Regions from separate parts of the Homo sapiens genome. Here all the other regions are reported to be linked to region 3. Evidence: microRNA targets listed by miRTarBase, many of them from high-throughput screens and not tested one by one. Region 3 holds a microRNA gene; each other region holds the end of a gene's coding sequence. Distances are from middle to middle.

Region 1 (7,485 bases), 210 Mb from region 3:
CATGGGCGAGCAAGCGGGCGGGAGGCCGTGCGGGGCTGGGATTCAGTGCCCCGCTCCCCGCAGGCCCGGAAGCCCCTGGTGGAGAAGAAGCGGCGCGCGCGGATCAACGAGAGCCTGCAGGAGCTGCGGCTGCTGCTGGCGGGCGCCGAGGTGCGGCGGCCGGGCAGGCGCCGTGGGGCTGCGGGGCGGGCGGGCGGGTCCGGGAGCGCGCTGCCGGCTCACCGCCCTTCCCGCCCGCGCAGGTGCAGGCCAAGCTGGAGAACGCCGAAGTGCTGGAGCTGACGGTGCGGCGGGTCCAGGGTGTGCTGCGGGGCCGGGCGCGCGGTGAGTGGCGGCGGGGCGGGCGGGGGCGCCGGCCGCGGGCGCCTGTAACCCCTGCCAGACGGAGGACTTCCCTCCCGGCGCCCCTGTCCTGTCGGCGGCGAGGGCTCCCACCGGAGCAGGGTGCGCCCCCGCGTCTCCTGGGTGAGCCGCGTCCCCGCGGGCCGGGTGGGCTGGGCCACGCAGTCGCCGCTCACCGCGCGGGACGCGGCTCTCTCCCTCCCACCCTCGGGCCCAGAGCGCGAGCAGCTGCAGGCGGAAGCGAGCGAGCGCTTCGCTGCCGGCTACATCCAGTGCATGCACGAGGTGCACACGTTCGTGTCCACGTGCCAGGCCATCGACGCTACCGTCGCTGCCGAGCTCCTGAACCATCTGCTCGAGTCCATGCCGCTGCGTGAGGGCAGCAGCTTCCAGGATCTGCTGGGGGACGCCCTGGCGGGGCCACCTAGAGCCCCTGGACGGAGTGGCTGGCCTGCGGGGGGCGCTCCGGGATCCCCAATACCCAGCCCCCCGGGTCCTGGGGACGACCTGTGCTCCGACCTGGAGGAGGCCCCTGAGGCTGAACTGAGTCAGGCTCCTGCTGAGGGGCCCGACTTGGTGCCCGCAGCCCTGGGCAGCCTGACCACAGCCCAAATTGCCCGGAGTGTCTGGAGGCCTTGGTGACCAATGCCAGCCAGAGTCCTGCGGGGGTGGGCCCGGCCCTCCCTGGATCTCCTCCCTCCTCCCAGGGGTTCAGATGTGGTGGGGTAGGGCCCTGGAAGTCTCCCAGGTCTTCCCTCCCTCCTCTGATGGATGGCTTGCAGGGCAGCCCCTGGTAACCAGCCCAGTCAGGCCCCAGCCCCGTTTCTTAAGAAACTTTTAGGGACCCTGCAGCTCTGGAGTGGGTGGAGGGAGGGAGCTACGGGCAGGAGGAAGAATTTTGTAGAGCTGCCAGCGCTCTCCCAGGTTCACCCACCCAGGCTTCACCAGCCCTGTGCGGGCTCTGGGGGCAGAGGTGGCAGAAATGGTGCTGGGCACTAGTGTTCCAGGCAGCCCTGGGCTAAACAAAAGCTTGAACTTGCCACTTCAGCGGGGAGATGAGAGGCAGGTGCACTGAGCTGCACTGCCCAGAGCTGTGATGCTCTGTACATCTTGTTTGTAGCACACTTGAGTTTGTGTATTCCATTGACATCAAATGTGACAATTTTACTAAATAAAGAATTTTGGAGTTAGTTACCCTTGAAGTATTGTTGAGTGATGTGTCATTACTGTGTCAAGATATGTAAATGCTAAACTAAGCACATTTCCCCTGCATCTGAGGCTGGTGAATGTCCTTTAAAACCTCACCCTTTCTCAGCAGAGTGAGCAGTGTGATGGTGGTGGGGATGCACTCCGTGGCTGTCTCTGCAGCAGGCAGTGCTTCTGCCCCCCATGCTAGGCAGGTCCTCAGACCCAGCCTGTTCTTGGGCATTGTGTGTCCTGGAGAAGGAGTTTGTTTGCATGAGGCTTGTCTCCAGGGTAACTCAGCAATAGGGAGATGACCTGTCTCTGTGCCATTTTCTTGTTCATGAGCTTCAGGAATAATAAAATAATGCCTAATTGCTACCTATTTGGTTTGAAAGTATCTTTTAAAGACCTGTTTTAGGACCCACGAGCATGACATAGACATGAGTCTACTTGTGTGAGGTTGTTGCTTATCTTGACTGAAGAAGGAACTTCCCCACTGCTGCCATTGACTTCAGGGTCAAGGAGACCCACCCAGTTTGTGGCCTGAAATGAAAGCGCCAAGGCCCCAGGGGGCTTGAGCGTTAGGTCAAACTGGGTCCAGGAGGTCAGAACCCTCAGGGATGGAGGGTGGCAGGATGGGCAGCTGGGGTGCGGGAGCCTGCCCTCTTGGGCTCGGCCAGACCTGCAGATAGCACGTGGTCAGCCGGCTGAAGTCACCGCCACAGTTAGCCTAGCCCCCTCCTCCTGCTCCAGGACCCCAAAGCAGCAGCTTCTCACTGTGGGTTGGCAGTCCCCAGGCTAGGGCCAAGGTGTGACAACTTAGGATTGACGTCGGGGTCTCCTCTCTGGACATGTGCTTTTGCCTTAAGAACACCTTTCCCAGCAGCCCCTTTACAAAAGCCCCCAAGCAGGTCCTGGCCACCAGGGGTGTTTCAAAGTTTGAGGTTCACTCTGGCTCACCTCAATTCAATCATAGAAGCCATTGGGCTATAACCAGATGCAGCTTTATCATCTGGAGCCGAGCTATTGGGGCAGTGGGGGAGCCAGTGCCACAGAAGAAGTCTTGAGCAATGGAAATATCATTCCTGGGATTATTTTAATGTCCTCAGACAGGCTGATGTAGGATGTACCCACCAGGACACGGATGGATAACGGGCCATCCTGAAAGCCCTGGTTTCCAGTAGCACCCAGAGGCCATGCCAATGAGCTCTCATGCCATTCAGGGAGCATCAGCCATGGACTGCTTCAAAGGAACAACTTTCACCTCTCAAGTCCACTCATCACACCTTCCCAGATGCCCTAGGAGGGGGTCAAGGGGAAGCCCAGGAGGCAAGGTGCAGGAGGCTGACCTGGAGTAAAAGCGTTGCTAGGACCAGAGTCAGAAGCCACTAACCCAGAACTCTGGCCCTGTGCCCCTCCAGCCCTAAAGTCAGCTTCACAGTAATCCTCAAGTGCAGCTTCTTTTGGAAATGTAACTGGCTCCCACACCAGTGACCACTGTTGGCCTCCTGGGGCTGAGAGCTGCTCTTGCCTGCGGTGCAGCCTGGGGCCACCAGCTTCCCAGCCAGCTGGTTGTTTCACACCAGCTCCTCTCCCAGCACCCCCAGGCTCCCCACAAGCCCTTCTCTGAGGGCTGTCTCCTTCCCACCCGGATCCCTTCTCTAAGGGCTGTCTCCTTCCCACCCGGATCCCTTCTCTGAGGGCTGTCTCCTTCCCACCCGGATCCCTGACCCACTGTATTACTTTTCTATGGCTGCCAAAACCAACGACCACACTCTTGGTGGCTTCAAACACACGATTATTGTCTTGCAGTTCCACGGGTTAGAAGTCTGTCAGGATTCACTGGGCTAAGATCAAGGTGTTGGCAGGCAGGGCTGTGTGCCTTCTCCTGCCTCTTCATTCAGGGGCCACCCACATTCCTTGGAGGATGGTCCCTTCCTCCATCCTCAGAGTTCCTCGGAAGCATTGCGTCTCTCTGACCCTTCTTCCTTGGTCACGTCTCCTCCTTACTTCTACTTTTAAAGATCCTTGTGATGACACCAGCCCCCTGGAGAATCCAGGATAATCTCCCTGTATGAAGGTCTTTAGCTTAATTCTTAATCACATTTGCAAACTCCCTTTTGCCATGTAAAGTAGCATATTCGCAGGTTCTGGGAACTAGGATGTGGTCATGAAGGACATTCTCTGTGACACCTGCCTGCACCCTGGCCCAGGCGTTCTGCCTTCCATCATGAAGCAGTGTGGCGCCCGCTTCCGACATGGGCATGGGCCCCCATCCCTGCTCACCTGCTCAGGGACTCTGCTCTCCACTGCACCATTAGCTTCTCCTCCCTTCTGGATCATTCTCATTAACCTACAAACGGGCTGTAATATGAATACCTTTACTCGGAAGAACCTCCCTGGATGTGACATACTGTTAGCCTCTGTCTCAATGCTCTAAAGCAAAATTCCTTGAAAGCGTCATCTACACTTACTGCCTCCACTTCCACGCATCCCATTCCTCTTCATTCCTTTCCAATCAAGCTATTGTCCACCCTTCCACTGGAACTGCACAGTCAAAATCTCTAGTAACGAGCATGTTTCCCAACCCAGTGGGCATGTCCGCATGTCAGCTTCACTTCTCGTGGGTTATGACTCATCCATCTGGAGGCTCCTTCTCCAGTCTCAAGGGCACCACACCAGCCTTCTTTCTACCTCATCGGCCATCCTCAGTCCCCTGTACTCAATGCTCCTCCCTGCCGACCTCCAACTGGACGTGTTCTTCCCAAGGCTCTGTCCTCAGCCTTCCCTGCCGCCCTCCAACTGGACGTGTTCTTCCCAAGGCTCTGTCCTCAGCCTTCCCTGCCGCCCCCACACCCAGTGACACCATCTGGCCCGTTTTGCCAATCCCATGCCCTTGATTCAAAGCCCCTCTCCAGGCGGCTGGCTCCTCTGTATCCTCCTGTCCACTCAGTGACTGCACTTAGATGTCAGATGGGCTCACACCACCACCAAAACAACAGATCCTCAGGCATTACCACTTCTTGGTACCCCATGGATTGAGCAAAAAAATCTAGATGTCACCCTCAAGTTCACCCTCTTCCTGCCATCCCACGTCCTATCAGTCAAGCCCATGAGCACTACTTCTTCTTCTTTTTTATTTTTATTTATTAATTTATTATTATTATTATTATTTTGAGACGGAGTCTCACTCTGTCGCCCAGGCTGGAGTGCAGTGGGGGAGATCTAGGCTCACTGCAACCTCCGCCTCCTGGGTTCAAGCAATTCTCCTGCCTCAGCCTCCCAAGTAGCTGGGACTACAGGCGCCAGCCACCACGCTCGGCTAATTTTTTCTATTTTTAGTAGAGACGGGGTTTCACCGTGTTAGCCAGGATGGTCTCGATCGCCTGACCTCGTGATCTGCCCGCCTAGGCCTCCCAAAGTGCTGGGATTACAGGCGTGAGCCACCAAGCCCGGCGGAGCTCTACTTCTAAGCCCTGCCTCCACGTGTCGTCTTCTTTGCCACCGACCGAGTCCAAGGCAGCCTCGTTTCTAACCTGGGCCTCCGCAGCAGGCCTCTGACTCCCCTCCCACTCCAGTCCTGACCGTGACCTTCAAGACTCTACCCGGTTCAGCACCGCCGCCCCCCGGGGCTCCTCCCTTCCAGCCCTCCCTACGCTCTGCTCAGGCCTCTGCAAGTGACCCGAGAGCCAGGACCCGGACGGTCTCGATCAGCCAGTCGCCCAGCCCTTGAGCCCTTCCGGGACTGCCCGGAGCCGGCGCTGGGGAATACCGAGTCCCTTGGAGCCGGGTTCGGGGGGCGCCGTGAGCTGGGAGGCGCTCGGAGGAGCCGAGGCCTTGACCACGCCCCCTCCAGCCCCGCCCCGCCAGAGGCGAGCCGCGGGGCCTCCTGGGAGATGTAGTTCCGACCCCTTTACTTAGATTTTTGGTTTTTTTTTTTTAAATCAGTTTTATTTAAGAATTTCCAACAATGACAACTCTTATAAAAAGCATCCAAGCACAGGACACAGAACTGCAGCAAACAGCATTCTTATGGGTAGCTAACAGACATTAGAACTTCTACCCTTCTTTGAGACACCAGAGTTCACTGCTGAACTCTGCTTCCAAGTCCTCCTGCAAAGCACACCACAAGCTCAGTCCATGTTCTCAGCCCATCAGCTTCAGTTCACATTGCCACACTTACATATCAGTAACAGAAGAGAACACACACCATACAGCATTCACAGCAGTTGACAAAGGGGTAGGGGGAGTACAAGTATCATTTCACTTAACACATTCAAATAAAGTGGGTTATCTAAGAACAAAAACTCAAAGTCTTCCAACAGATGTGGATGTCCTTTGAATGCAAAAAACATTCGTACATTATTTGCTATCATTGCTGTCTGCACACTGTCACCAAAGCCGCAGGATTGAGAAACACATCTCGCCAAGTTAAAAAATATCCGTTATGCACCACCAAGTCTCTGCACGTGCTCTCTCCTTTTCTCACTCATACTAGCCTTTCATGCCTCAGCACCACCGTCAATCCCACACAAGGTTTCAAAAGTTCAAACAGCCTTCTAGTTCCATATCACAGCCTTGCGTTCACAGCGTTGATACGACTCTATGAAATAAAGAGTAGCAGATAAAAATGGGACACCCACCGTCAAAGACGCGGCCTGTGATGCGTGATGACGAATTCTTGAATGAGAAGGCATGTAGACAGAAGTGTTCCTATGGCAGAATATTTACAGCACTACTTTCAACCAAGTGCTTCTTCCATAAACATTTGAAATGAGATGAACTGCAGAGATTAAATGAAGGCTTCATATTGTACTTTTGTGTTTGAGGGGAGACAAGTGTTAAAAAACAAAACAAAAGAACCAAACTGTGACACCATGATCTTCTAAAAGGAGATTTTCTTAAGGAAAAAAATCCATATGGTGGGGTTCAAATTAAAACAAGGAATAAAGAATGTAGTTCTAATTCATGGCTTCCATTTTGAACATGCAAAGAACTCACTTGACAAGTCCAGGGATAAAATATTACAGGAGAAACCTTCTGATATCAATTGTAGTGTGTTGGTTTACCAATCAGGCAAACAGCAGTTCACTTTCAACCACTCAATATTTCAACCTTTCATGTAACAAAACTTATAAAATTCCTTTAGCTGTTCCTTTTTCTAAAGAAAAATGTCAAAAATACTACTGAATATACTCCACACTGAAGAAACCAATTTTGAAAATTCTTAGTACATATGTATTTTACAATATACTTACCATGAGTTTAGAAAAATTTGAATTCCAACCATTCTATACCAACCAACCACAACCCCACTGTCTACGTTCCCAGCCAGAAGACTTAGAATCCATGCTTGAGCCAAAGCCGCCATTAAAACCACTGCCCGACCCTGCATTGGATGCTGATCCCCAACCAATTGTTGCACCAAAATTAGAACCACTACAAGAGTTATTTCCAGAACCGAAGGCCTGGTTTGGCTCCCTCTGCATGTTGCCTTGGCTTTGGTTATCATCCGATGGGCCTGGCTGCTTCGCTGGCTGGCTAACACACCCATCGTACACCAACTGCTCTGCAGCACTGCCTGGGGGGCAGCCATCATGGCTGGATTAATGCTGAACGCACCAAAGTTTATCCCACCACCCATATTACTACCTTGATTGTTTCCCAAACCAGCTCCACCCCCTCTACTCTTACCAAATCCACCCTGATTCCCAAAGCCACCTGGATTACCACCAAATCTTCCACTTCTTGCTGTCTATTGCTATTGCGCTTGGGTTCGGCATTGGATATGTGAACGCTGATTCCTTTCATCGAGTCCTCTCCACAAAGAGACCGCGCAATCTGATCATCTGCAAATGGAACAAAGGCAAAGGCCCTGAACGGCTTGGGGACGAAGACATCCATCACATCCCCATACTGAGAGAAGAACTCCCACAGCTCATCCTCAGTCATGTCCTC
Region 2 (7,618 bases), not on the chromosome of region 3:
ATGTTAGATCTTTTGTTATGGTCACACAGGTCCCTGAGATGCTGTTCATTTTTTTCAATCTGTTTTCTCTCTGTTGTTCAGATTGGGTAATTTCTGTTGTTTTGTTTCCCAGTTTATGGTGCATTCTTTCCTTTCCCATCCACTCCACTCTTAAGCCCATCCACTGATTTTGGTTATTGTATTTTTTTAGTTCTAGAATTTCCAATAGGTTCTTTATATCTTTTATTTCTTTGCTCAGACATTTGACTTTTTCTTTTGCTACAAGTGTGTTTATAATTATTTGTTGAAACTTTCTTATGGCTGCTTTAAAATATTTGTCAGATAATTCTAATATCTGTCCATCTTGGTGCTGATATCTTTTTTTTTTTTTTTTCCAGACGAAGTCTCACTCTTTTGCCCAGGCTAGAGTGCAGTGACGCAATCTCGGCTCATTGCAACCTCTGCCTCCCCAGGCTCAAGCCATTCTCCTGCCTCAGGCTTCCGAGTAGCTGGGACTACAGGTTTGTGCCACCATGTCTGGCTAAGTGTTGATATCTATTGATTACTGCCTTTTAAATTCAGATTGAGAGTTTTCTGGATATTGGTATGATAAGTGATTTTCTATTGAAACTTGGACATTTCTGTTTCTCATTCTTATTTAAACCTTCTCTTTTAGCTGACTTTGACACCACTCTAGCAAGGGAAAAGGAAATAGCATACTACTGCCAGGTTGGGGGTCAAAGCCCAGCTTCCCCACCTGGCCTCCACTGACACCTGAGGTGGGAGGCTGCTTGTTACTGCTGGGGTGCCGTGGCACTCCCGGCTGCCCCTGTAGTTTCCACTGACTCCCAAGGCGGGAGCAGCATCACAATCACTGGGCGCTGGTGAGCGTTCTGTCTCTTCACCAGGCCCCCTCTGACAACATGCGTGAGGTTGTTGGGCACCTCATTATAGCTTTGTGAGGGCAGAGGTCTTGGCCTTTGCTGATCTGGGTGGGGCCCCATTTTTCCTGTGGTGCTTGGCTGGAGTAGAGCAGTTATTTATTGTCTAAATTTTCTGTCTTGCTAAGCTGCCCCTTTCCTGGTCCTCTGGCTGGGAAGAACAGGTTTTTGTCTGTGCCCACTGGTGTTTCCACTGGGGGTTTTAATCGTACTTAGTGGGAAGAGCAGGGAAAAGAGCATCTACTGATCTTCCGAGACATAGGCGTTAGTTTACTTTTGATAGCTGTTGTCAAGGTGTCCTTGTTACATGTGGTGCACATGTTAGTTTTCCATTGTTTCTTTTTCTCAAAGGTGCATTTTGCTATGCAGAAATGTTTAGTTTTTATAGACTCAAATATATTAATCCTTTTTAAAAAATGGATTCAGGGTTTTATAACGTTTGGAAAGGCCTTTCTCAAACCACGCTTATTAAAAAAAAGCCTCCCATTTTCTTCTAGCTTTGAGTTTTGTTTGTTTTTTTGTTTTTACATTTAAATATGTGAGCCATCTGGAATTTATTTTGGCATAAGTTGGAACAGGAATCTCCCTGCACTCCCTCCTCCTTGGCTGCCCAATTGTCCCAGCTCCATTTACTGAGTAATAAATATTTTATGGTGTTAGGAAAATTCTATTTGGTAAATAGTTGTTTATAATAGTGTTCCTAACAGCCGAATCCTGAAAAAAGCGGTCTCAAAGTCGTAGAGGCTGCACGGAGGAAGGGATGGTTCAGACTTTAGCTTTCCTTGTTGTTAGTTGATGACAGTGGGTGCAGTGTGAGCCCCAGGCTGAACTGCATGACACACTAGATAGTCGGCCTGTCCCTATTTATGGGACTTGGATACCCTCTGGGTTCAGGAAGTCAGGGGTGGCCATGGCTGACTAGAGGGTGTTTTGAGCTGCCTTGGAAAGTGCTCCAGCTTGAAAGTTCCTCCTCCGTGGCCTGGTCATTGCTGAGGATTGATCTATCCCAATTTTCAGTAGTAACAACCCAGCTGTCTAGGAGCCTGAGCATCTGTGAAGGGGAGGCTCATGAGGATGTGGAGGAGTATGACAGAAATGAGCCCCTGAAGGGGGAGAAAGGAATGAGTGGAAGAGGCCAGGGATTGTGCCTCACACAGAGGCAGAATGTGTAAGGTGGTCCCAGAAGGGATGATGATAGCAGCTATGTGTCCTGGTGCCCTGATGACACTAGTTATGACCTGACCTTTCTCTTCTGGCTGTCAGGTTTCTTCTGCTTAGGAAAGAGCGCCATAGCCAGGGAGCCAAGGGATGTGGGGATGAAGAACCCCTCTGGAATGTGAGGCCTCCCCCACTGGGCCTCAGTGGACTTTCCCAACTCAACGCAGTGTGGCCTACAAAGCCCTAGTTGGGAGTTACAACCTGGGATTTGGCTCTCTGCCATTCGCTGGCAGGCTGGCTAGGAGAGAATCATTTTCCAAGTCTGGACCTTGTTTTCTCTACCAATAAAAGAGGTTAAGTTTTAGACATAAACAACTATTGTTTATGTTCAATATGGGTACTGAACTAGATAAGTGAATTTTCTTTTTTAAGGCCCTTTTAAGAAACGGAAGCGTCCACAGAAACTCAGGAATAAAAGCGTTCAGTGCTAGGCAGCTGGGGTTGAAACAGGCCTAGGAACAGGGGCTCTGGCAGCTGGAGCCACTGGACCAGATGGGGCTCAAGGTCCCTCCCGCTTTATGAATAGAGGCCCTGGGCCCTGCTTTATGAATAGAGGTGACAACACCTGTCCGGAAAGGAGTGGGGCTAATGAGATGGTTGCCTGGAAAGCTAGCAGAGCTGGAACACAGGTGCTCCATCAGTGAAGGGGCCAAGGTGCTCCGTCAATCAGTGAAGGGGCCGCTATGACCGCTTGCTTGTGCTTTCCCAAATTCTCCCCTTTAAATACAGCTCAGCACCCTGCCCCTTCCTCTCCCTGCCACCAGCCCTCTGGGAACACTTTGCCCTCTGCATCCCTACCATAGCACGGCTTCGGGCTGGTAGCTAGTTGTTTATGTCTAAAACTTAACCTCTGCAATCCAAGCAAGTTCCTGAAAGGAGAGCACTTTCTTTCACAGCTCTAGATCCCCCAGGCTGCCTGGGAGGCAGATGTTCGGTTCATGTCTATGGGTGGACAAGCCCAGACCAAGAGGCAGAAGAGATGCCACTGCAGCAGTAACTAGAATGTGGCCCTGGCTTGGTGTTCACAGAACGATGTTCCTAAGGAGGGGAAGGTGAATCCTGGGGCCCTTGCGCCTCACAGCACAGCTGTAACTAACTGTTTGTTAGAGAGTGCGAGACAGAAAGCCAAACAGCCAAGCTGTCGTCATCTCAGCCAAACGGTGTAGGATGCGAATCACTGATCCTGAGCCTGCGTCTCGCCTGTGCCCACGCCTCTGCCAGAAAACCATCAAGACGCTTTCCAATTCAAAGACTCAGAAGAATTAAGGCTGCGTTCATGTCGCTTCTCATTTATTAATTCAGTCTGTTCTAAGTTGTGTACAGTTATGAAAATAACAAAACCAAAGCTGGAAGCCCAGAAATATTTACACTCTCTTGGGTACTGAGGTCAGTCTATGTTGTTGCACAGATTGGTTATGTTTGGTACCTCAAAGTGTTTATAATTCAGACAAAATCAGACAGATTAACAATTTTATATACAGTAAAACAAAAGGGAAAGTCATTCAAGTATCAAAATACAGAGACAAAGATTAAATAACATTTTCATTACAGTTCAGTCCATTGCCACACCATGAGCAACAATACTTCTGAGCTGCTTTCTGCTGGCCTGGGCATCTCAAAGACAGACCCAATTCAGACTGGTTTTCTAATGTCTCTGACTGCAGCTCTGCCTGCTCCCTGCTCAAACCCGAGCATCTCGGGAACTCCCATTAGTGTCTGACGCTGGAGGGCCCAGGAGGGACGCAGAGAGCTGCACACGCAGAGCCTGTCGGGAAGGTCTTATGCGCTGAGCAGCTGGTGGGCAGGGGAGAAGAGGTGGACAAGAAGCCTGTGGCTGGGACAGGTACTGAGCCCATCTGAAGTCTCCCACCCGAATGGGCTCCTTCACAGTTCAGAAACGCAGCGACAGGGTCTGCCCCTGGTGTGACCTGCACTTGGAGAAGTGCAAAAGTAGGGGCCTTCCCACTTGAAGCCTGTCCTTAAAGTTATAATAACCTTTCTAGGAAAGGGAGACTACCCATCCCAGAGGAGAAGAAAAGAAAGAAAGGCCCAGTCATTTTCCTTTCTTGAATATTCAGAAATAAACCAATCTCTAAACAGAACCCAGAGCTAGAGCAGACTAGCCAAGGCTTCCAATATGAAAATACCCTGAATAAATAAAGATGATATAGCAGCTTCAAGCAGAAGAAACACCTATGGATGATCTAAGCACAAAAGACAGCTTGAGGAGTGCATCGTAGTGTCTGCGGTTTCTTTCGGACCTACCGCCCCGCCCCCGACAGAGGCCCACTTGGATGTGGCCTGGCCCCTTAGGAGGAAGACGGGCACCAGCATGTGCGCAGTGGCAGCGCAGTCTACTCTGGATGCTTTAGGGTTCCTGGTCAACTCTTGGAAGAAAGCCGGGGCCGAGAACTGTACAGCGGTAGCTCATGGGCATCCTCACAGGCCCTGAAAGGGGCAGGAAATGAAGTAAAACTGCAAGGTGTCGAGATCTTCGTTTAGTACCAAGAAGTGGAGGAGGGCCTGCCTCTACCGCAGAGAGAGCTGAGTCCCAGGCCCCAACCTGCTGGGTGCTTAGCAGATAGAAACCCACAAGGCCTGGCCTCTAGCCAGTCAGAGACACAGCCCCACTTCTGATTTCTGGCCAACCACATGGGTTAAGAATGTGCCTAACAGTACTCCCTGCACATACATACCAACAAAGAATTCAAATTCACAGCCTTTGCTGGCTGGGAAAGAGGAGTGTTGCTGAAGCCTGGATTATTCATCCTGGGACCTGATTGACCTATGCCAGGAAAGCTCGGAGCCTGCTAAAGTGCCCACAGGAGGAACTGGGCACACAGCTGAGCCAACTTTGCCTCTCAAATCCACAGCAGTTTCCCCTGCATTTCTACTCTAGTCCAGAGGGAAGAATGCAACCCAAGTTACTTTTAAAAACAAAGCGAGCAGCAGGAAAGCTTAAGAAGCAGAGGCGCACCGGGATGCCAGCCTGCCCCAAAGGCCACGCGGGGGAGCATCGATGCACTGTCACCTTATTTAGCCTTTTCCACACCGGGGGCCAGGGATGGGCCCAGCAGCCAAGTGTAACCGTCAAACCGATAATTCAGAGAATCAAAATGAGCCCCAATCACACAGGCTGATTAGACAAATCACAAATTGGCAAGTAGCAACCTTAGCTGACCCCACTCCAAGCATTAATGCCCCAAACAAAGCTGCTTTTCCTATTCTCTGACACAACGCAGGCAGTACGGCGCCGGCCAGCCCAGGGCAGTGCTCCGATCACTGACAGGTAAGAGGCCAGGGAGAGGCCTGGCGCTCTGGTGCTGGCTAAGACTTCCCAGCACTAGAAACTGCACACTTATCTTCATTTGGCCACTGAACCTTCCCATCGGGAACCCCAGAAATGGACCGGAAACCTTTGAGTTGCTCAGGTGCCTCTAAGGCTGTGTTCTTACGAGAAGCCTGTGTCTAGCCCCTGAAAGGGACAGGAAGTTGGGCAGTTCATAAAGAGCAGCAGCTGATATGGTTGGGTTTGAAAAGCAGACGCACCGTACTCAATTCTGCCTGAGCCTGCTCCGTTCCCCTCACCCACAGGCCACCGCCTTCTCTTCCGACCCACTGAGCTGCACCCAAGTTCCGTCCTGAGGACAGAGGCTATGCAGGCTGGCCTCTGAACCAACCTCAGCTCCCCTGTCCTCTGCCCCATGGCCATTTGTCTAAAGATTGGCAGTATGACCTAGAGGTTTGAGCCAAGTGTTAAAAGTTCATTTTATAAAAAGATTTTTTTTCTGTTAAAAACAATGTGTTCTGAACAAGTCACTTCTTGACCCTCTGGAATGCCAGTCCCATCTGCTAGCGGCCTGGAGTGCTTCTCCACAGCCAAGGCAGGGCTCGTTCTGCAGGACGTGGTGGTGGCAGGCCCAGGCCAAGTGGCCAAGAGGAGGTCCTGCAGGCGGAGGTGAGGCCTGGGTCTTCAGAGCTGCAGGTGAGGCGATGGCGGTGGTGGCAGTGGGAGCCTATGCCCCCACGTCTATGTTTCCGCAGCACAGTGTGGTTCCTCAGTGGCTCAGCTTGGCAGAAGCAAACAATGGGGGGAGGAAAGGGTTAACCAATGGGGCCTGCGGACGGTGGAGGAAATGGAAAGGAAACACAGAGCAGGACAGACGATCCCTCACAGCCTCCCCGGGGCACCCTCCATGCCTGCTTTGAGCACCCACAGCCTGCAGCCCCCACTGCCTCTGGCTCAGTGACTCTGCTCAGGAAGGCACAAGGATGGGTGGGTACGCAGGACCCACCCAGTTTATCGACTTGGGTTTTGACTGCCCTGGCCGACTGGCTTTCCTAGTGGACTCTGCTATGTGTGCACGGCTGCCTATGGGCGCCGCTTCCTTCCTGTCTCCTGCCATCCAAACTGATTTGCCCACACTGGAGAATGGGGTGCCTCTTCAAAGACTCAGCTCCACCATCCCAGCTTCTGAGCTGCTGCGATGGGACGGCCTCTCCTTTCGGAGGAGTCAGGAGGCTGAGGGAGGTGGTCAGGGGCATGCTGGACGGCGCTGTCTATCTGTGATCCCCCACCGTGGAGAGTGTCAGAAAGCTCCCAGAGGACAATGGAGGCCACTTGGTCCAGGTCCCTGTCCTCCAGCAGCTCTGTTCTGTGAGGGAAGAAGGTGCGCCGTGTGTGCAGGGCACAGGCCGCCTCCTCGTTGGTTCTACGGAAGGCCTTCCTCCTCAGTGAGCTAGACTCCAGAGCCAGGCCCAAGGCTGCCAGGCCTTGAGACTCCATGGCGAAGATAGAGGGGCTGTCCACACACATGCCACCCACCTCCTTGGAGGGGAAGGCCCATCAGGACTGAGACACCTGCTGTGTGAGCCAGCCTGTGAGTGTTCAGATACCCAGAGCCCCAAGTGGGGCAGTCAGCACGGACCCAAGGGCCTGGCGCATATCTTGGGCCCTCACAGAAAGCAGTCTGTCCCTGGTCCAGCCACATCACTGAGCTCAAGGTCTCACAAGGGCCTAGCCATGAGAGTGAGGCCAGCACCTCGGAGTAGCGGAGGACAGTGGGGTGGGGCTGCAGGCCGGCTGTGAGCAGAGTGCTGGGGACTCTGGCACTGGGTGGTCACAGTGGTTGGTTGGTTCAGGAGAGGTGAGAACAGTCAGCTAGCTCTTGGCAACGGTGCCCAGCTGTGGCTCAGTACAGCAGACAGGAGGAGGGAGCCACACAGAGCCCAGCCCAACCCTGGGGAGCTATCAGTGCCGTTGGGATCCTGCTGGAGACTGCCCTGCCCGTCGGGGTTCACAGTGCCTGCCCGTGGAGGCTTCCAGGGTGCAACAGAACCCCTGAGCCCTCTTGATGCCCACCTCAAAGGCAACTCACCCCCTCAAGCTGTCCTCAGCCCAAGGGGGAGAATTCACAGTGTTCGGTGGTGGTAGGTGCGAGAGCTGCAAGTGTACAGCGTCTACGCTGCCGCCCGCCCAA
Region 3 (7,000 bases):
GCTTTTTTTTTTTTTTTTTTTTTTTTTTGCTTTTTTGGGGGTATGAGGTCTTGTTATGTTGCCCAGGTGGTCTGGAACCCGTGGGCTCAAGTAATCCTCCCGCTTCAGTCTCCTGAGTAGCTGGGATTTCAGAGATGCACTGCAGTGGCCAGCTGTCTTTGTTTTTAACCACTTTTACCATGACAGTTCCAGGCATGCATATCCTGCATGAGTTAACAGTTTCTTACATGTTGAATTGAGATTTAAGTTTTACATCTATTTGGGAAATTTTTCTTCTTCTCAATACTGTTTCTGTCCATGTTTCAACTCACTCTTCTTCTCGGACTATAAATTCATGTAAGTTAGAATTTTTCACTTCAGTCCATACAGCTCTTATGTTCTTCTCATTCCTTACACTTTCTATGCTTCCATTTGAACCATTTTTTTTTTTTTTTTTTTTTTTTTTTTTGAGACAGAGTCTTGCTCTGTCACCCAGGCTGGAGTGCAGTGGTGCGATCTTGGTTAACTGCAGCCTCTGCCTCCTGGGTTCAAGCAATTCTCCTTCCTCAGCCTCCCGAGTAGCTGGGATTACAAGCGTCCACCACCACGCCCAGCTAATTTTTGTACTTTTAGTAGAGATGGGGTTTCACCATGTTGGCCAGGCTGATCTCAAACTCCTGACCTCAGGTGATCCGCCTGCCTCGGCCTCCCAAAGTGCTGGGATTACAGGCATTAGCTGCCGCGCCAAGCCGAATGATTTCTTTTGATACATCTTCCAGTTCACTACTGTTGCAATCTGCAGTGTCTCTTTTTTTTTTTTTTTTTGAGATGGAATTTCACTCTTGTCACCCAAGCTTGAGTGCAATGAAGCCATCTCGGCTCACTGCAACCTCCACCTCCCGGGTTCAAGCAATTCTCTTGCCTCAGCCTCCTGAACGGCTGGGATAACAGGCACCCACTACCACACCGGGCTAATTTTTGTATTTTTAGTAGAGACGGGGTTTCACCATGTTGGCCAGGCTGATCTCGAACTGCTGACCTCAGGTGACCCTCCTGCCTTGGCCTCCCAAAGTGCTGGGATTACAAGTGTGATTACAGGATTACAGGCTAGGATTACACCATGCCCAGACAGTGTCTCTTATTAAACACACCTAACAGTATCCTTAATTTGATATATTAGAAATTCTCAACCCATCCCATATAGCTAGTAGTATCCTGACACCAAAACCAGACAAAGGCATTACAACTACAGACCAAACTCTGTATTAGTTTTCTACTGCTGCTATAACACATTGCCACAAACTCAGTGGCTCAGAACAGCACAATTTATTATTTTAAAATTCCAGAGGTCAGAAATCCAAAACAGGTCTTATGGGACTAAAATCAAAGGATGCATTGCTTCTGGAGGCTCTTAGGAAATAACAGTTCCTCACCTTTTCCAGCTTCCAGAGGCTACTTACGTTCCATGGCTCTTGGATGCTTCCATCATCACATCATATCCTCTATTCCTCGCTTATGCTTAGACGGCTGAGGAGATCCATGAGTTACATGCCTAATCTCTTCAAAGAGCCCTCTATGTGACTGAATACTCTGACTTTTGATGTTTCTAAGGCACTAGCAAAAGGTTGTCCAGCCTCACTCTTGGCTTATACTTTGGAGCATGCTTTTCTGATAGCAAATATCTAAATTTTAGCACCTTCTGTGATCTGGATAGGTAATTTCACAAATTGACAAGCACTGATTGCTTGTTTTTCAACAGTTCTTCTCTCAATTTATATCTTTCCTCGCACATTTCACTATAAGCAGCAAGAAAAAGACAGGTTGTACTTTCACCACTTTGTGTGGAAATCTCAGCTAAACATCCAAGTTCATTACATGTTCATTACATGTAAGTTCATTACATCCAAGTTCATTACAGCAGAAGTGCTGCTTTCTATATTTAGGACACAAATGAGTTAATAGTTCTGCTTCTATATGACAAAGATCCCTTTTCCTTCAGGTTCCGGTAACATGTTCCTCATTTCCTTCTAAACCACCTTGTCAGCACTTTAAACACCTGTATGTCTACCAAGTCTGCTTATGACAATTCAGATATTCTCTAAGACACTGTAGGTTTTCTCCCCTATGATCCTTACTTCCTTCTGGGCCCTCACTGGCAGAAGCTTTATCATCCACATTTTATCTAACAATCTATTCAAGGTAATCTAGATTTTTTTTTTAAATCATGCTACTCAAAATTATTCCATACTCTGCCAAGTACCCAATTCTAAAGTCACTTTCACATTCTTAGGTATGTATTACCAGGACCCCATTTCCAGTTACTAATCAATATAGTGAACCACACTGAATACTAAATTAGAAAAAATCATTTATGTTGAGCAATAATAATGCTGAAAATGTTGGGGTCTTTTCTGCTTCAAACTTTTGAGTAATTATGTCATTGTCTAGTAAGAAAATTTTGCTCATTCTGTGTCAATCACCTTATAACATAGTTATATCATCTTATATTTTTGAATACTAGGGAAGCAATAACATGAATAAGTATTATTGTGTGTTGCATTTTGTCCTCCCAAGATATGTTCAAGTCCTAACCCCTAGCACCTATGAAGATGACCTTATTTGGAAATGGGGCCTTTGCAGATGTAATCAAGTTAAGATGAGGAGATAATGGTTTGCAGGACCCTACATTAAATGACTGGTGTCCTTATAAGGAGAAAGAGATACAAGGACACACAGGAAAGATGGCCATATGACGACGTAGGCAGAAATTAAAGTGATTCAGCTACAAACCAATGAACAGCAAGAACTACTGGCAACCAATAGAAGCCAGGAAGAAGCAAGGAAGGAGTCTTCCCTACAGCCTGAATTCAGAGGGAGCATGGCCCTGCTGATATCTTGATTTCAGACTTACAGCCTCCTCAACTATTGAGAATAAATTTCAGTTGTTTTAAGCCAGCCCGTTTGTGGTATTTTGGTACAGCAGCTCAGGAAACTATAATAGAGTCTAGAGCTACTATACCAAAATAACCACACACACACACACACACACACACACACACACACACGACATGAAATCAAAGAGAATAATTCCCCTACTTCATTCAACAAACACAAAGTTTTGTTTTTACAACTCTCCATGCACCATACTTCCTACTGATTGATACAAGAGCATGGAAAGCACAGACATTGACAGCTTCGTAAATGAACACGGGAATAGGTCATGTTTTTAAACCACCAAAAATGGAAATGGCACCTGAAACAGGAATAAAAGGTAAACAAAAAGACATATATTGGTGGCAGTATACACTGCTATTTTACTTCTCCTATTTCCAATAATATCTCTAATAAATATCACACTTAAAGCAGCATAGAAAAGAGAATGCTAGTGTTACAACCATGAAATCAAGATAAATGCAACAGTGTAGTAAGTCTGGCAAGTGTGCTTGATCTTCAACATTTCTTCCATACCTACTGAAGGTCATGAAGCTCTGTACAGACTGACCATTGAAAGAGTTATATAATGTTCAAAAAATATAAAGCAAAGGGTATTTCTACAAAGTTAATCCAAGTACATTAAAAAACAAACATTAAAAAGAATGAAGGGCTTAGCTATGGAATGATATACTCGATTAGGAAATCTTATCTTACCTGTTGAATTACTTCTGGATATAGCATGGGTAGTCTTTCAGCAATAAGAGCCAGTCCACCCATTCCTGCAAAAACTTGTAATGGTGACTGAATTGGACAGGTTTCAAGCAAAGATTCATCCAGTATCCCATCCATGCATTCATCACCTGGAGTGAGAGCCTCATCTTCTGGACAGCTAGCAAGTAAGTCTCCATGATCTAGACAATAAATTACAAATAACTGAATAGGTAAGAAAGGGTATATTTTTATAATATTCTTTCATTTACAAAAGCAGGTATTACTGCTTTCTTGCTACTCAAAAAAGAGCACAAAACATCATTTATTTAGATATAGCTGTATTATGGCTAGACGGTACAATGACCTTTAAATGACTTCTGATACTGCCTTCTTTAGTCTTGTTATTGGAAGAATGGTTCATGGACTAGTAGTATTGGCATCACCTGCAAGCTAGTTTGAAATGAAGAATCTCCATTTTAACAGTATGATGCTGGTCATTTGTAAGCATACTGAAGTTTGAGAAGCACTGTCCTTTAGGGCATACTTTAACGTATATCCTATGTTAAAATAAATAAGTTCTCAAAGTTCTCATAGCAAATAATATGCTCTAAAGTATCCTATTAAGAAAAATTAATGACAAAGACTTCCCTTACTTAAAACAAAAAATTATACCATATTAGTTTAACTCTGAATTACTCACCAAAGAAAACCAAAAGGTCACGTAACCAGACCCTTTAAACATTAAAACAAAAGAGAGAAATAATCGTGCTGAAAAACTGGGCAAAGACAATGTACCAAAATTTGCTGAAGAATACAAAAGACCAATAACTAAAGACTGAATTTTAGTCATGAGAAAGATGGAAAGTTTAAGTAAGTTCATATCATACTCACACTATGAAAACTACTTATATAGCATTTATAGGAGTAAAAATTGGAAACAACCACAATGTTTCGATGATTGGGGAACAAATAAATTTTCTTACATTTTTATGAAAAAATAGCCAATTCAAAAATGGATATTCAAAAATATTTAATGGAATATAAGGGCCGGGTGCGGTGGCTCATGCCTATATCCCAGCACTTTGTGAGGCCGAAGCGGGCAGATAAGTTGAGGTCAGGAGTTACAGAGTAGCTTGGCCAACATGGTGAAACCTTCTCTCTACAAAAAATACAAAAATTAGCCAGGCATGGTGGTGGGTGCCAGTAATCCCAGCTTCTCGGGAGGCTGAGGCAGGAAAATCACTTGAACTCGGGAGGCGGAGGTTGCAGTGAACTAAGATCGTGCCTCTGCACTCCGACCTGGGAGACAGAAAAAGACTCTGTCTCAAAAAAAATTAATGGAATATATAAGTAAAAAACAAAAATATGTGATCCCAATTATATGAGAAAACATGTTTATATGCAAGAAATGCCACTCAATATAAATTATAACAAAGTTGTAAGTTGAGTTTCTCACTTTTATTATAAAATGACAATTCACATAGCTCTCACAGAAATATCAGAAATTAAAGTACATGCGCTCATAAAACAAATGATGTTATAAGAAATAATGCAACTTAGTTTCCAAATGAAATAATGGCCATTTTTTATATTTACAAAAATTCAGTCATAAAAAAATTATATCTTATGTTGATATAATAAAAACACAAGTCAATTAAGTCATTAGCTATAGAAATCTCTGCCTCTTTGTATGACAGTCTGTAATTTTTAAAGTAGTATTATGCACATACCTTTTTCAGGGTGTAGTCTTTTATAAGAATCTGTTTTTGATAGACTGGGGTCTGTTATAACTCTTGATCCCAATTTAACAGTCAGATCTATTGAGCGGTAACCCTGAGGAAGTTTTCGGTCATATAGGAGAGTTAAAAGCTGGGCAAGTGTCATTTCAGCTGGCAATGGCTGGCCTAAAATGATATAACTAAGTTAAATCTGGAAACCGAGAAAGAAACATTTACTTGGTTTAATTATTATCTGCTTTTACTAAATTACAGGCAAGAGTTTGATTCTGAAACCAATTTCAAAACAATTAAAAAATTCAACAGCCATTGGAAAGTTTACAAAAAGTGAGTTTATTTCTGACATATAATAATGAACAATAATGTCTGTGAAAGTGTTAAAAAGTCATGGGCAAAACGTAAACAAAGGAACAGACATTTCCATAAATCTGATGTGGGACATTTTTTTCTATAAAAGGACAGCTAATAAATACTTTAACCTGGGGGGGCCATATAGTCTCTGTTACAACTGCTAATCTACATTGTAGCAGAGAAGCAGCTATGGACAATACACTAGTAAATGGGCATAGCTGCATTCCAACAAAACTTTATTGCAGGCAGAAGGCAAGACTCACATCACCTAGGTAATGGGCCATGAGATATGTCACAAGGACCTCTCTGGACCAAGGTATCCAACCCACCAGTCGATAGTTTGTTCGCCTCCACCATGAATCAACAATGTAAAGCTAAGAAGAAAAATTCCTTTGAACTGAGTTGGCAATTTCATTTTAATACAGCATGAAAATGGTGATAAAATAGAGGATGGGTATCCCTCATCCAAAATGCTTGAGACTAGAACTGTTTCAGATTTCTTTTTTTTTCTTTTTTTTGCATTTTCTAATATTTGCATGTACACAATGAGTTATCTTAGGGAGGGGATCCAAGTGGAAACACAAAATTTATTTTTGTGTGTATACACACATACACACATCCCTTATATACATAGCCTTAAGGTAATTTTATACCGTATTTTTGATAATTTTGTGCCTGTAATAAAGTTTGTGTACCCTGAACCATCAGAAAGCAAAGGTGTCACTATCTCAGCCACCCATGTCAACAAGAGTCATCATTCCTGACTCTTAATCTACATGCTAACAATAGGCAATTGTTTTCTTACATTTATTCATACATTAAGTACTTAACAGTAAAAATATGACATACCATTAACACTGAAAAAATAATGTGTCAGGACAACTAAGCAGCATAGTAGCATCACCAGGATACCTGTTTCAGCTATTAAACAAAACCAACCACAGAGCCGGGGGTAGTGGCTCATGCCTGCAATCCCAGCACTTTGGGAGGCCAAGGCAAGTGGATCACCTAAGGCCAGAAGATCAAGACCAGCCTGGTCAACATGGTGAAACCCCGTCTCTATCAAATATACAAAAATTAGCCAGGCGTGGTGGTGGTCGCCTGTAATCCCAGCTACTCGGGAGGCTGAGGCAGGAGAACTGCTTGAACCCAGGAGGCGGAGGTTGCAGTGAGCCGAGATCACGCCATTGCACTCCAGCCTGGGCAACAAGAGTGAAACTACGTCTCAAAAAAAAAAAAAGGAAAAAGCAGCTACAAACAACAGCAGGCTTTCAGTCTTCACCTATGAT
Region 4 (7,770 bases), not on the chromosome of region 3:
AGCATTTCTGAGCTGGGACTTTTGACTAGCCTGGCTTTACAAATAAGGAAACTGAGGCACAGTGTTTAATTGCCCAAAGATTCCACTATAAGTAAGGAGTAAAAGTAACATTTAAGTTCTGGGTGGCCCTAGAACCTTAGCACTCAACCAGGTTACCAGTTGTGCACTGACTTTGGGAAGCTCATGAGGGAGTGGGGTGGTTGGGGGTAGGGAAGGATACAGAAGACCCCGTTCTGACTGGTAGAAGTGACAAGTTTGACTCTTGATTTTTTTTAATCTGTTTTCTGTAGCGTGAACAGCCCTTATTTGAATGTATGAGTTTTAGTAAGCACTGTGATAGGAGGATTCATATACTTAAATCAGGCCCTCTTGAGAGAGTTTTTTGGTGACCCTTTTGCATGTGTTTCGGAGGTTGGGACAAAGAAGCTGAATGACTTTTTTCCCCACCAGACAATCAGTTCAAATGGCAATCACAATATAAAGGTTTTTTTTTTTTTCACATAGCTAAAAGGTTTTTTTAAATGTCCCTTAGGATCTGTATCTTTGCAGTGCTTTGCGTGTCACTCTCATAATTTTATTGTGGATATACAATGTTCCCAGATTTTCAGATTTTTATCAATACTGTTGTGCTGCTTTTCTGTCCTCCCAGGTTATAACCCGTTGTCTGGTGAAGGAGGCGGAGCTTGCTCCTGGAGACCTGGACGCAGAGGCCCGTCATCTGGCGGATGAGGCTAAGAATCTTGTTAGTGTCACTTTTGACATTAGCAAGATGAACCCTTAACCCTCGATTCAATTGCCTTACGCACGCTTTTCACAGTGACTAGCCAAGGGGAGGTGGGGTTGATTTCTGTTCCTAACTACACCTGCATATGTCAGGGCTCCAGTCAGCAAAAGGTATAGATGTTGCCTCTAGGCATGAGGTCATTGGTCACATTCTACTTGGAGACAGTGATTGCATTCATTGATTTCATGGTTAATTGCTAGTTGGTAGGTAAAGGCCTCTAGATGATTAGCAATCTTGATAAAAGAGGCCTAGTAATGTTCTTTTGAGGTTAGAAATCCTTGCTGCTAGGACAGTCTCTGTGACAGGTTGCGTTGAATGATGTCTTCCTTATCAATGGTGAGCCCACCAGTGAGGATTACTGATGTGGACAGTTGATGGGGTTTGTTTCTGTATATTTATTTTTATGTACAGAACTTTGTAAAAACGAAACTATTTAAAAAACAAGAATAACATTTTTAGCATCTTTATTCAAGGAGATTTATGGACTTCAATTTGTCTATCAAACATTAAATAGCTTTTTATTACAACCTCTAACTATTACTTATTTCTCTATTTATTATTACTCACCCAAAATAAGTCTGGCAAGTGGCAGACAGCTGCCGTGATTTTGAAAGTTGACAGACTCCTTGGGGTTCATCCACAAAATTGGGTGCTTGGAGTCGAGTTGCCGAATTACTGGGATAAAGAAACATCGTGCCTCAAGGTTCCTCATAGGCTGACCAGGTTTCTACGTGACCTCTCAGTTATTCCCTTACGCCATGACTCATCTTTTACGCTCTTGTCCAGAGGCACTATCAGCAGTTTTGGATAAAGAGCCAAACAGTAAATATTTTAGACTTTACAGGCCACATATGATCTCTGTCACATAGTCTTAGGTTTTTATATTTTTAAAGGATTGTTTTTAAAAAAGATTCTCTGCTCATGGGCTGGATTTGGGCTGAATGCTGTAGTGTGTGGACCCCGTCTAGATCATCAGAAGGAAAAACATTAACCTTCAGAATAGGGGGTAATTCGCTGCAAAAGTACTATAGAATGGTCTCATACATAAATTAGTCAACATTTGTTATCTCCTGCAGGTAGAATATTCCGTGGTTGCTTCTTGACCAAGGGAAATACAGTCTGGCTGTGAGAGACTTAAAATCTCTTGAGGAGCGCTCTGGAGAATGGCTGAAGGAGAGGAAACAGGAGCCTTGAGCAGTGTAATTACAAACAAATAGGTTGGCATAGTCTTAAGTCTTTGAGTCTAGAGAGATTTGAGTTTTGTTTTGCCTGTGGAGGCAATTGGGGGTTTCAGGTCAAAGAGAGGGTCAGTGGAAACAAGGGTGGGCCTTGTGAGGTGTGGGGAAGCCCTGGGACCCTCACTCCCCTTCCAGTGTGTAACTGGATTGGCTCCCACCAGCCCAGAAGATTTACGACGTGGGAAATGGTATACTTGGATTAAAATATTTCATCCAGATTTGTTTACATCTAGAGAGAACCCCTTGTAGGTTATAAGGAAACTTTTTAACATTCTTCCTTGAATATATTTTCTGTAGCTGAAAATGTTTGTGAAGTGGCTGTCAACTACACATCGCATGAGTAGAGGGGCTCTGGGTCGGGGTTTCATATGCAGCAGAGCAGCTCCCTTGCTGCCGTCCATCAAGAGCCCTCAACACAAGAGTTTGTTATAAATAGAAATAAACGACAAAAAGTAGAGGGGTATGTTTAAGTACACTATTAGATGTGACTGACTACCTTGAAACCTGATTTTTTTCCATGGGGAGAAACAGTGCTTGAATTCTGCATGCCCCCCTTGCATCTAGCACCTTTTGGTAGGGGTGGAAGGAGGGTGTCAGGGAGAATGATTAGGAGATAATGGAGGGGAGGGGAAACTTGCGTTGTGTAATAGCATTTGAAGAGCACTTACCACGTGGCAGGAGTGTCCATTTCTGTTTGATCCCCCTAGAATCCTATGAAACGGGTATGTTACTAACCTTGGTTTTCAGAAACTGAAGCTTAGATGGGCTTAGTAACTGGTCCACAACGCTACTCGCTGTAGTCTACTTCATCCTTGTGTTCATATTAGCCAAAGGCCTTAAGTCATCAAGGTGTGGGAAGCTTCTTGCAGCTAATGAAACAGTTATGTGGCCAGGCACAGTGGCTCACGCCTGTAATCCCACCAGCCAAGATGGGTGGATCACCTGAGGTCAGGAGTTCGAGACCAGCCTGACTAATATGGTAAAACCCTGTCTCTACTAAAAATACAAAAAATTAGCTGGGCATGATGGCATATGCCTGTAATCCCAGCTCCTTGGGAGGCTGAGGCAGGAGAATTGCTTGAACGTGGGAGGTGGAGGTGGAGGTTGTGATGAGCCAAGATCGTGCCATTGCACTCCACCCTGGGCAACAAGAGCAAAACTCCATCTCCAAAAAAAAAAAAAAAAAAAAAGTTATGTGAAGTAATAATACAGTGAAAATCACATTACAGATCTAGGGCATTAAGCATTTCAGAAAGGTGGACTGAGCTTGCCAGGGAAAGCAGGTCTTGGACCTTTCTTGAAAAAATGAGAAATTGGGGGCAGAGGTGCAAATGCCAAAAGCTGAGGCCCCTGGGGAAGAAGGGACGGCCAGAGCCATAAAAACCATGCTTCAAACCTAGGCCATGTGCTCACCTTGTCCACCAGCAGAGGCTGCTGTGGGGCTCGCGGTGTGTCCTGGCAGTTGGCAGGAGTTTGGGACAGACACTGGGAGCTGTGAAGTTTTAGATAATGTGTGACGCACCCTATCCCAATCATGGAGCAACATGAGTAAATTGTGGGGCAGAACACACAAGAGTCTTCAATTGGAATGCTTAGGAGATAGAGTTGTGCCCTTGGCTAAATGTTTGAGGAGAAAAGACTTGAACGACCACGTTTGGATCCCATCACCGCCTGGATCCCATCCTCTCCTCAGGGACTCCACTCTGCGCCCCCTTCAGATAGGTAACATGCCAAGTCTGTCTCTTCTTGGAAAGAGCAAGGCCCCGTCAAATGCGCAGCCCTGGGTGCCTCTGGGTGGGCGTTTCTCACCCTACTCCTTAGCGATGTGGAAGGTGCCCTTACTGAGTTCATCCCATTTCTCGTGCCAGTGGAATTTTGGTCTCGCTGTATTTGACTTGACAGCACATTTCCTACATGCCCCTCCTCGCAGCCCTCCCTTCTGGAACACTCTACACACTGGATCTTAGCCCCCGTGACAGTCCACACCTCTCTCCTTTGCCAGTTGTGCCATGGTCTCTAGTCTTGAAAAAGTGTTCTGTGTTCCCTAATTTCTCTTCCTGCATTTGCTGTTAAATCCATTCTGCTGAAGCTGCTCTTCAGGTCACGTGTGGCAGGGGGTGATGGGTCGCCTCGGTCCTCGCCTGAAGTTAGCATCCTTTGCGGTCCTTGAGCACTCCTGAAGAAACACCTCCCTTGGCTTCCAAAACACCGAGTTTGCCTGGCTTTCTCCTACGTTTCTGGCCACTCCTTGTTCTCTTTTGCTGCTTTTTCTCACCTTCCTGAAACCCCTGGGGTGCCCAGAGCTGTCTTTAGACCTGTTCTCTTGGCCACATTTGACACAGTGTGTCTCCCCCTTTCTCCCCTGACTAAGGGGAAGAAGTCAGGTTGCAGTGAATGCTGTGTGTGCTCGGAGCATCCAGTCTTCCTCTGGCACAACTGTCACATTTCGTTGTAATTGTGTCTTTTCTTCACTCCAAGACAAAAGGAGTGGTCTCTTTGGTGTGTGGGTGCATCCCCGGCAACTAGAACAAGCCCTGACATAAGCGCCCACCTCATGGAGTTAGAAAAGGCAAGAAGGAAACCATCACTAATGTCACGTGGCGAAAGTGGCATTGTGGATACCACATATGTGCAAACGCATCTTCTAGTGATTCTGTAGACGGGTAATCGTGGCTTATGATAAAATATCAGTGTCTCATACCCCAATTCAAATGCTCTGTTTCGAAGAACTCACAGAAAATTATGGGCTCTGGGGAACTAAAGGCTCAGAATGGGCCTGGGGGTGCCGAGGATGCTGTGGACAGTGTAAACACAGGCCCCGCCCTGAGGGCCTTGACATCTGTGGGGGAAGACGAGCACTGCATGGCCACAGAAGTAGATGACGATAGCTGATGAAGGCCCATAGATGGGAAATACACATTCCAGTAAGAAATGATGTGACTTACGAAGACCTAACTTAGGTTTATTCTGTAGCTACAGATTCCACTTCTGTGGAAGTAGGGGTTGGAAGTTGTAGGAAATAATTTAGAGATGAAACAACCTTTTCCTCTGTCTTAGCTGCCGTAATAGTACCACAGATTGGGTGGTTTATAAACACCAGGCATTTGTTTCTGGAGGCTGGAAGTCCAGGATCAGGGTGCAGGCATGGCCGGGTTCTGGTGAGGCCTTCTTCCAGGCTGCAGATGGCCAACTTTTCGTTGTGTCTTCACGTGGTGGAGAGAGCTCTGGGGCCCCCATTATAGGTGTACTAATTCCATCATGACCTAGTTAACCTCCGAAGGCACCCCCCCAATACCATCACCTTGGGGGTGAGGATTTCAAATGCTAATTTGTGGGGGGACACATACATTCAATCCATAACAACCACAAACCAGGAGACTCTAGTGTTCAGTATTAGTACAGCTCCTAACACTCCTGAGTAGCTATGTCCGTCTTGGGGTCTACGTGGTCCTTTGCAGGTTCTGAGGGACCTTCACTGGCCCCTTGCTGCCTTCAGCATCCTGAGAGGGGGTCATACAGTGCCACCAGACCAGCTTCAGGAGAGCACGTCTGCAGATGTTGATACAGGTTAAGCCCGCTTCTCTTTGAAGTAGCTATTCCAAGCCTCCACTCAGCTCACTTCAGGCTTCTCTTCATCATCACCCAAACAATGGCAAACGCTGTAATAAAAAGGGCTCATCATGAAAAAATGCAAGAGAAGTGAGCTTGCCAGGGTGACCTCTGATTTGGAAGATGGTCAGCTCAGTGTTTCCAGCATCTGGACTGCCCTGAACATAATGACTTCAAACAACCATTTATCCCGAAGATTCTGCTGGGCTGGCTCTGCACTCATGCTTGTGGTCAGCTGGCGGCTGGCAGGGCCCAGTGGCCTCCCCCACATCTGCCCGCTGGCTGGCGCTAAGCTGGGCGACAGGCGACTGGCCCATGTGTTTCTGCATCTGCGGCTAACCCGGATTTGTTCATTTCCAAGGACTGTGTGCCCAAGTTTTTCAAGCTGCTGCTTGCTCCACACTGCTACCTTCCCACGGGTCAAAGCAATTCATAAGGCCAGTCCCAACGCAAAGGCTGGAGGAAGGCACAGCCTCTCGGTGGGAGGAGCTGTCGAGTCACATTGCAAAGGCGTAGATGCAGGGAGGGGAAGAAACTGGCCATTTGCAGTAGAAGGGAGTCTTCCGGGTCACACAGCCTTAGTATACATCTTTGCGTCTGTGAAACTTCTCCCCATCTGGATCAAAACTGCCCCAACTTGATCTTTGAGGATCATCCCCAAAATTTATAAGCAAGAGAGTTACCCGGCAAATGTGAAGACTCCTGTTCTGACCAATACACTCCACCTGAATCCCAAAAGAGCCTAGGACATGGCCTGTATCAGCCGGAAATGGCATCTCAAATTGGCTGGCTGAGGAGCGTTCAGTAAACGAGCTGTTTGCCAGGGTGCAGACAGGGTTAGGCATGATACAATCCGGGTGGCTAGCAACATCGGGGAACCTTTAATGCCCCCAAACCTGAGAGCAGTTACCAGGACCTGGGGGGAGGGCCGCCCGACAGAGACCAGCCTTCAATAGAGACGCCAGCTCTCAGTGACCCAGTGAGAAGGACCACGATAAATGACCTTAGTCTCCTCCCACCCACCAGTCTTTCTGCCTGTGCCTCCCATTGGCTGAGCCCAGCTGAAGGCATGAGCCTCTGGGGATGGCATTAATATCTCTTTTTGTTGCTTTTTTTGGTTTTTTTTTTTTTGAGATGGAGTCTCACTCTGTGACCCAAGCTGAGTGCAGTGGCGCGGTCTCGGCTCACTGCAACCTCCGCCTCCTGGGTTCAAGCCACTCTCCTGCCTCAGCCTCTTGAGTACCTGGGATTACAGGCACACACCACCACGCCCGGCTAATTTTTGTATTTTTAGTAGAGACAGGGTTTCACCTTCTTGGCCAGGGCGGTCTCAAACTTCTGACCTCAGTGATCCTCCCGCCTCGGCCTCCCAAAGTGCTGGGATTACAGGCATGAGCCACTGCGCCCGGCTTTAATATCTGCTAAGCTCATTAACCGATGCCTGCACTCAAGGTGACTGTTAGGGGTTGAGTTGTGTCCCCCAAAATGTGCTGAGGTCCTGCCCCCAGTATCTGTGAATATGCCCTTATTTGGAAATAGAATCTCAGCAGATGTAACCCAGTTAAGATGAGATCTGCGCAGAGGGTGGGCCCTGAGCCAATGTGATTACTGTATCATTGGCTAGGGCTGCCGTAACAAAATGCCACAGACTGGGTGGCTTCAACCACAGACGTTTATTCCCTCACAGTTCTGGAGGCTGGAAGTTGGAGGAGGTGCTGCAGGACTCTCCTCCAAGGCCTCAATTCTTGGCTTGCAGATGGCCACCCTCCTGCTGCCTGGTCACAGGCTCTTTTCTTTGTCACAGTTACCCCTCCTGCCTCTCTGTGTCCTAATCTCTTCTTACAAGTACATCGGTCATACCAGACTAGGGCCCACTCTGATGGCCTCTTCTTAATTACTTCTTTAAAGACTGTCACCAAATATAGTCACATTCTGGAGTACTGAGGGTTAAGGCTCCAACATATAAATTTTAGGGGGGACAATTCAGCTCGTAACAATTGGTGTCCTTAGAAGAGAAGAGGCCGGGCGTGGTGGCTCAAGCCTGTCATCCCAGCACTTTGGGAGGCCGACGTGGGCAGATCACTTGAAGTCAGGAGTTCAAGACCAGCCTGGCCAACATGGCGAGACCCCATCTCTACT

The links. The annotated mature microRNA hsa-miR-558 reads UGAGCUGCUGUACCAAAAU and lies in region 3 at 2,948-2,966, opposite strand. An mRNA with a match to its seed (bases 2 to 7 or 8) in the 3' UTR can be bound and repressed. Matches are read on the target gene's strand: a 7mer-m8 pairs with bases 2 to 8, a 7mer-A1 pairs with bases 2 to 7 and ends in A, and an 8mer does both.
Region 1: the mRNA of HES6 is a reported target of hsa-miR-558. Seed matches in the 3' UTR shown: 7mer-m8 at 1,191-1,197.
Region 2: the mRNA of ANKS1A is a reported target of hsa-miR-558. Seed matches in the 3' UTR shown: 7mer-m8 at 6,115-6,121, 8mer at 5,758-5,765, 7mer-m8 at 3,886-3,892 and 8mer at 3,726-3,733.
Region 4: the mRNA of SELENOS is a reported target of hsa-miR-558. The part of its 3' UTR that is shown has no 7-base or 8-base seed match.

Annotation. Positions count from the first base shown.
Region 1 is chr2:238,232,326-238,239,810 of GRCh38, reverse strand. It overlaps HES6 (hes family bHLH transcription factor 6), which reads left to right. Exons shown (of 4, transcript NM_018645.6): 2 at 64-150; 3 at 243-324; 4 at 560-1,544. The coding sequence ends at 984. It also overlaps the pseudogene TARDBPP3. Among named protein-coding and RNA genes, the nearest start is that of HES6, 4.0 kb to the left of the region's middle. RefSeq lists silencers at 1-50, 4,998-5,087, 5,238-5,367 and enhancers at 774-1,342, 5,068-5,569.
Region 2 is chr6:35,087,196-35,094,813 of GRCh38, reverse strand. ANKS1A (ankyrin repeat and sterile alpha motif domain containing 1A) reads right to left here. Exons shown (of 24, transcript NM_015245.3): 24 at 3,408-6,208. The coding sequence ends at 6,205. Among named protein-coding and RNA genes, the nearest start is that of TCP11, 50 kb to the left of the region's middle. RefSeq lists enhancers at 5,695-6,520, 6,521-7,348.
Region 3 is chr2:32,528,179-32,535,178 of GRCh38, reverse strand. MIR558 (microRNA 558) reads right to left here and starts at 3,026; the gene lies at 2,933-3,026. BIRC6 (baculoviral IAP repeat containing 6) reads right to left here. Exons shown (of 74, transcript NM_016252.4): 60 at 5,355-5,528; 61 at 3,628-3,824.
Region 4 is chr15:101,265,736-101,273,505 of GRCh38, reverse strand. SELENOS (selenoprotein S) reads left to right here. Exons shown (of 6, transcript NM_018445.6): 6 at 650-1,315. The coding sequence ends at 735. Among named protein-coding and RNA genes, the nearest start is that of SELENOS, 7.9 kb to the left of the region's middle. RefSeq lists an enhancer at 5,901-6,435.